Homo sapiens: one gene and its partner. The protein of the gene in region 1 purifies or fractionates together with the protein of each later gene. This does not show direct contact. Each region holds a gene or a part of one and is shown in the gene's direction. Other genes may lie near its edges. The genes, in order: CAPN15 and KCTD7.

Region 1 (3,809 bases):
AGTGGCCCCCAGGTGCTCGGCCTGCGGCTGCTCCAAACTGCACGGCTTCCAGGAGCATGGCGAGCCCCCCACCCACTGCCCCGACTGTGGGGCCGACAAGCCCAGCCCCTGCGGCAGAAGCTGCGGACGGGTGTCCTCGGCCCAGAAGGCCGCCCGCGTCCTGCCCGAGCGCCCGGGCCAGTGGGCCTGCCCTGCCTGTACCCTGCTCAACGCACTGCGGGCCAAGCACTGCGCCGCCTGCCACACGCCTCAGCTCCTGGTGGCCCAGCGGCGGGGGGCCGCGCCCCTGAGGCGCAGGGAGAGCATGCACGTGGAGCAGCGGCGGCAGACAGACGAGGGCGAGGCCAAGGCACTCTGGGAGAACATCGTGGCCTTCTGCCGGGAGGTGAGGCGCCCCCTCGCCCTCTTCCTGCTCCTGAGCCTCCTGCTCCCGCCCTCCCCTTCCTAGGCTTTGGGCTCTGGCGATGGGCTGGGGAGGAGCCCACAAGGCCTAAGACGTGATGGGGAGGGCAGCACCCTCCGCCCCGAGGCTCCAAGCTCCCAATGGCCCTGGGGTCCAGCTTGGCCTCCTGACCCTTGGTCCTTGCTGGTGACCGAGATGCACGACCTTCACCCCCCTCAACCCTCCACCGTGGCCAGGAGGGCCCCGAGCCCCGTCTGATGTGCCGCAGGAGGCGAGGGCTTCCCAGGGGCAGCGTGGAGACCCCGCTGAAGTGCGAGGTCGGGATGTACCCGTGCTCCGCCCTCTAGAGTCCAGGATGGCATCACCCACGGGTCAACTGGGGCGCAGCCTGCACCCTCCCCAGCAGGGCCAGGGCCAGAGTCGTGCTGCCACCCACTGGGGGCTGCGCTGTCCCCCTGGGCCCACACGTCCCCTGCTCCTCACCTGTCGCCAGCCGGTGGCCTCTCCACTAGGGCTGAGGGCTTCCTCGACACAGGGCCGGCGCCAGGTCTGTGGCTGTCCACGCTCCACCCGTCCCTTTGGGGCTCAGGCAGTGCTTTTGGGCGCTCTCCTGGGTGGGGTCTTGTCCCTGCCAGGTGGAGCGAGGCCACCCTGCCCAGCCTGAGCACATGGCCGTGGTCTCTGCAGAACAATGTGAGCTTCGTGGATGACAGCTTCCCTCCCGGGCCCGAGTCTGTCGGCTTCCCCGCGGGTGACAGCGTGCAGCAGCGTGTGAGGCAGTGGCTGCGACCCCAGGAGATCAACTGCTCCGTCTTCAGGGACCACAGGGCCACGTGGTCTGTGTTCCACACACTGCGGCCCTCAGACATCCTGCAGGGGCTGCTGGGGAACTGCTGGTGAGGCCTTCTCCAAGGCCGGGGTGGGGCGGGTGGGCGGGCGACCGGCCGCGGTCCCCGCGAGGTCACCCTGAGGCTCTGCGCAGGTTCCTGAGCGCCCTGGCGGTGCTGGCGGAGCGGCCGGACCTGGTGGAGCGGGTGATGGTCACGCGCAGCCTGTGTGCAGAGGGCGCCTACCAGGTGCGGCTGTGCAAGGACGGCACGTGGACCACGGTGCTGGTGGACGACATGCTGCCCTGTGATGAGGCCGGCTGCCTCCTCTTCTCACAGGTGGGGCGGCCTGCAGGGTGGGCACGGGCGGCAGGGGCAGCCTCTGACCCCAGCCCCGAAAACAAGGCCGGCTGCTTCCTCTTCTCCCAGGGCGGGTAGTGTGGGGGGCGGGCGGGGGTGGCCTCTGACCCGGCCCTCTGCAGGCGCAGCGGAAGCAGCTGTGGGTGGCCCTCATCGAGAAGGCGCTGGCCAAGCTGCACGGCTCCTACTTTGCGCTCCAGGCGGGCCGCGCCATCGAAGGCCTGGCCACGCTCACCGGCGCCCCCTGTGAGAGCCTGGCGCTGCAGCTCAGCTCCACTAACCCCCGCGAGGAGCCCGTTGACACTGACCTCATCTGGGCCAAAATGCTGAGTTCTAAGGAGGCTGGGTAAGAGGAGGGGCACTGCGTGGTCAGCCGCGTTGGGAGGAGAGGCGAGGCGGAGCGGTGGGAGATGTGGGGCTGGTGGCCCCTGACCCAGTTCTGCTTCCACGAGGTGCCCCTGGCGTGGGCTGACCCCGCGTGGCCAGGCCACAGCCCCAATCACCTCCCCCTCCCTGGGCGGGGCTGGAGCTGGCCTTCTCATGCCAGGAAGGCCACATCCTGGCCAGGCCGTGGGGCGAGACCGATGCCGTCACCCCGGAGCAGGTGTGAGCGGCGTGTCGAGTTTGACCTGGGCCGTGGGGCGAGACTGATGCCGTCATCCGCCTCGGGGCAGGCGTGAGCGGCGTGTCGAGTTTGGCCACACTCTGGTCAGCGGGTCTGTGCCTCGACCCCCAGGGGCCTCCTCGGAGTGCCCCGGTGCGAGCACCTTGAAGCTCCCGGAGCCCTCCTCTCAGCTGACCCTGGGCAGTGCTGCTGCCCACCCCCCACCCGCCCGGGAGCCACAGAGCCCAGAGCCAGCCCCACAAGGCCTCCAGGGGACCCAGGCCTGCCACCCCTGACTCAGGCCCTGTGCGCTTCAGGCATGGTGGAGGGGGCTGGTCCAGACCCTCCTGAACACTTCACGTGGTCCCTACAGGCAGGAGTGGGCCCTTCTCTGCTGCGCCTGCCTGTCTTGGTGGCAAGGTCGCGGCCAGCGAGGGCACTGGTCAGCAAGGCCCCGGTCAGTGAGGGCCCCGCTCAGCCATGCCCCCAGTCGGTGAGGGCCCCACTCAGCCATGCCCCTGGTTAGTGAGACCCCCTGTCAGTGAGGGTTCCCTGTCGGTGAGGGTCCCCGGTCGGTGAGGGCCCCCAGTCGGTGAGGGTCCCGGTCGGTGAGGGTCCCCTGTCGGTGAGGGTCCCCGTCGGTGAGGGTCCCGGTCGGTGAGGGTCCCCTGCCGGTGAGGGTCCCGGTCGGTGAGGGTCCCGGTCGGTGAGGGCCCCGGTCGGTGAGGGTGCCCCGTCGGTGATGGCCCCGGTCGGTGAGGGTCCCGGTCGGTGAGGGTCCCCTGTCGGTGAGGTCCCTGGTCGGTGAGGGTCCCGGTCAGTGAGGGTCCCCTTTCGGTGAGGGTCCCCTGTCTGTGAGGGCCCCGGTCGGTGAGGGTCCCCTGTTGGTGAGGGTCCCGGTCGGTGAGGGTCCCCTGTCGGTGAGGGCCCCGGTCGGTGAGGGCCCCGGTCGGTGAGGGTCCCCGGTCGGTGAGGTCCCCGGTCGGTGAGGGCCCCGGTCGGTGAGGGTCCCCGGTCGGTGAGGGCCCCTGTTGGTGAGGGCCCCGGTCGGTGAGGGCGCCCCGTCGGTGAGGGTCCCGGTCGGTGAGGGCCCCGGTCGGTGAGGGTCCCCAGTCGGTGAGGGTCCCGGTCAGTGAGGGTCCCCGGTCGGTGAGGGTCCCCTGTCGGTGAGGGTCCCGGTCGGTGAGGGCCGCTCTGCCACACAGGTTCCTCATGGGTGCCTCCTGTGGCGGGGGCAACATGAAGGTGGACGATTCGGCCTACGAGAGCCTGGGCCTGCGCCCCCGGCATGCCTACTCCATCCTGGATGTCCGAGATGTCCAGGGCACCAGGTAGGGCCGGCCTGGCTGAGGGTGGGTGGGGTGCCGGTGAGACTCGGGCAGTGTGGTTCAGATCCTCACCCCTGTGGTCTGCAGGCTTCTGCGGCTCCGAAACCCGTGGGGCCGTTTCTCCTGGAACGGCAGCTGGTCCGACGAGTGGCCACACTGGCCGGGGCACCTGCGTGGCGAGCTCATGCCGCACGGCAGCAGTGAGGGTGTCTTCTGGATGGAGTACGGCGACTTTGTCAGGTATCGGCACCGTGGGGCGGTGTGCACGCCGCCCCCGCCCTCCTAGG
Region 2 (2,643 bases), on another chromosome or scaffold:
AAGGGGAGCTGAAGTCTGTGTTCATATGAGGAAGAGAAGACCAAGCCCTGGGACTTTGGCTGAATTCCTCCGTGGGGCTGGACGGCAGTGATCTCCTGTTCCCTATGTGTAAACAAAGATTCCAGGGCGTGGTTTTGCACTCCTGTTGTACTCTTTTAGAGGTGGAAAAGAGGTGGATACTGAGATCTAAGAGGAAAGGATAGTCATTCACGTTCTGAGATATGCGCTCTCTCTATTGTTCTCGTACACAAAGGGATAGTCTCTTTTCTGGAGCTGATGTCCCTGCTTGGAGGTTAGCCCCAAAACATGGCTCTTGTATTGTTCTAAGAGAAAAGGCTTTCATTTTGGTTCTTCTGATTGGTGTTACCTACTGCCTAATATGTGTTCATTTTTTGACAGAGAGGCAGACTATTGAAAAAGTCTGTGTGAACAGAGAGCAGTTCATTAAGCCCATTGCTTTCAGTAATGTGGCCTTGACCCCTTCTGCTTCCCCCTTCTCCCATGGAGCATGGCAGGGCTTGGTTATTTAGAGTCCATACATGCAAGCCATTGAGAGACTTGTTTGCTCAAATGCAAGTTTGCTCAAAAACAGGTCCTGAAGGCTTGCTTAGGATTACAGGGATGCTGGGTAAGAACACCGTTCCTCTCTCTCGCTGGAGAAATCCCTGTTTCTCTGACTCCCTTTGTGATCCTCACAGTAATGTATTCTGTGCCACTGTAGGACACAAGGCTCTGGGCCAGTAGAACAGGCAGAGAGGTGACACTGGGCAGCAAGCTGAGAGCTCTTTCTAAATGGAGTGAAGGAATTCAGTGGCCTAGTTTCGCCATTCTCTAATGAGAAACCAAGGCCAGGCTGAAAAGTGCAATTAGATGTGGTGGATTGTGGTAACGGCCTCCAGATAAAGGGGTTATCCCTGTGGAAGTGACTTTTCCCCATTTGATCCCTTTTCAACTCTAAATGGCCAGGCCCAGAACAGAAGAAGGGTTGGGTCTGGAAGGAAGGCTCCAAAGGATGAAAGCTTCTCCCTGATCATAAGGAAGTGCATCTTTATAGAATTGTTGTGCATAATGTCAGTAAATCCCTCTCACTTGACAAGGGACTGGATTCATCTTGCCTTGAGACGGGCCAGTAGTTATCAGTGAGTCAAAGCAAAGTGAAAGTTTCAGGAGATGGGACCAATGGTGCAATGCTCGCCATAACAAAATTCCTTAAAAATAAAAAAGCTAATGTTATAGCAACAAAAAAAGACTGAAGCAAAACCACACTGAAATGCATCCCACTCCAGGAGAGGAATTCTTAGCGTAACACTCTAAATAAATGGAAGGAATCATCACCTTCCTTATTTTACCTCTGCCTTGTTCACCAGGCTGCCCAGTGCTTACCATGCAGAAAGCAGTCAGCTGTACTCTGGAAGTTTCTGTTCTTCTTTCCTGGGGCTTAGGATATTCTGGGAGCTGTCTGAGCCTTGTGCCTAAGGCTTATCAGGTGATATAATCTTCCTGTTCTGGGCTGCTTGCTGGAGGAATAGGAAGTGACATTTATAAGACACAGGCGGTGTGAGCATCCATGTGTGGTCTTGGTCTAAACCAGCTCTTGAACAGGTTAAAGCAAACAGCAATAACAAAACAAAAACTACTGATGCTGAGCGTTTTGATCCTAGTAATATTTCAAATATTGTCCTTCTGCATATGTTCTATCCATATTTGATTCCAATATACATTATTAAGCTTTCTTGGGTACTATTTTGCTGGGGCTCTTGCGTGAAGGTGGTACCTGTCTCATGATCCTTAAAAGAGAGAGGCTTTTTTCATCCAAAGCTGTAGTGTTGGGAACTGGGGTGGGAGAGGCACTTTTTGGAATTCTGAAAGAATCATATCTGTGTATATACATACTGAGTGGGGAAGGATGGGGGTTGGCAGGGGTTGAGGGAGGTGGGAACAAACAGTGAGTATGGGAACAGGCAGTCACCTCGAGTGTGGGAGGTCACCTGGGTCCGTCGTCTTCCTTCTGTATGGTGTTGGGTTTATGTACACACTATAACACTTCCTGTGTGAGTTCATGTACCTGTCTGTGAGTGCTTTGGTGTATTGAGCCTCAGTACACTCCAAGGGCATTAAAGTCAAGAACTAGAACCTGGGTGCTGTGCCTTTCTTTTTTAGAGATGTGCTCTCATCTCTTCTCTGACCCCCACTTTGCCAGCAAATATTTTTTATTTCTGCTTAAAATGTGGTGTGTTTGGGGATGCCCCACACAACAAGACAGGCTTTTCCCTGAGACCAGCAGCTGAATTTCTGCCCTGAAAGGGAGGTGGGCCTCTTGAGGACCCTTCTAGAGTTACTCTAGACTTGTCCCTGTTTCATGTAGGCATGTGCCCACCCCAGCCTAGGCAAAATCTCTGTCCTCTTCTTTTGGGAGTTCTCCAAGGAAAGAAGAGACTGCAGGTGCAGTCACGTGTGTGGCTCACAACCATGTCAGGTAGTTCTAAAATAAATTCCTCCTGTCATATTACCACTTCCTTTTCAATGGGGGAAATAAGTAGCTCTAAATTTATGTAAGCCTCAGTGGTTAAGACCCTTCCTTAAGAAAAATGGACGTAAGTTGCCCTTCCTTTGAAAGCAGAGCTTGACACCTTCCTGGCTAAT

Evidence for each region.
Region 2: the proteins of CAPN15 (region 1) and KCTD7 purify together in Homo sapiens (affinity purification with western blotting, with the first as the bait; one study listed by BioGRID). This does not show direct contact.

The regions. Positions count from the first base shown.
Region 1 is NC_000016.10:547,903-551,711, forward strand, and holds part of CAPN15 (calpain-15), read left to right. Parts: coding exon 1-385; intron 386-1,090; coding exon 1,091-1,299; intron 1,300-1,385; coding exon 1,386-1,569; intron 1,570-1,712; coding exon 1,713-1,936; intron 1,937-3,399; coding exon 3,400-3,525; intron 3,526-3,609; coding exon 3,610-3,762; intron 3,763-3,809.
Region 2 is NC_000007.14:66,640,915-66,643,557, forward strand, and holds the end of KCTD7 (BTB/POZ domain-containing protein KCTD7), read left to right. Parts: 3' UTR 1-2,133; downstream 2,134-2,643. UniProt on the Homo sapiens protein: May be involved in the control of excitability of cortical neurons.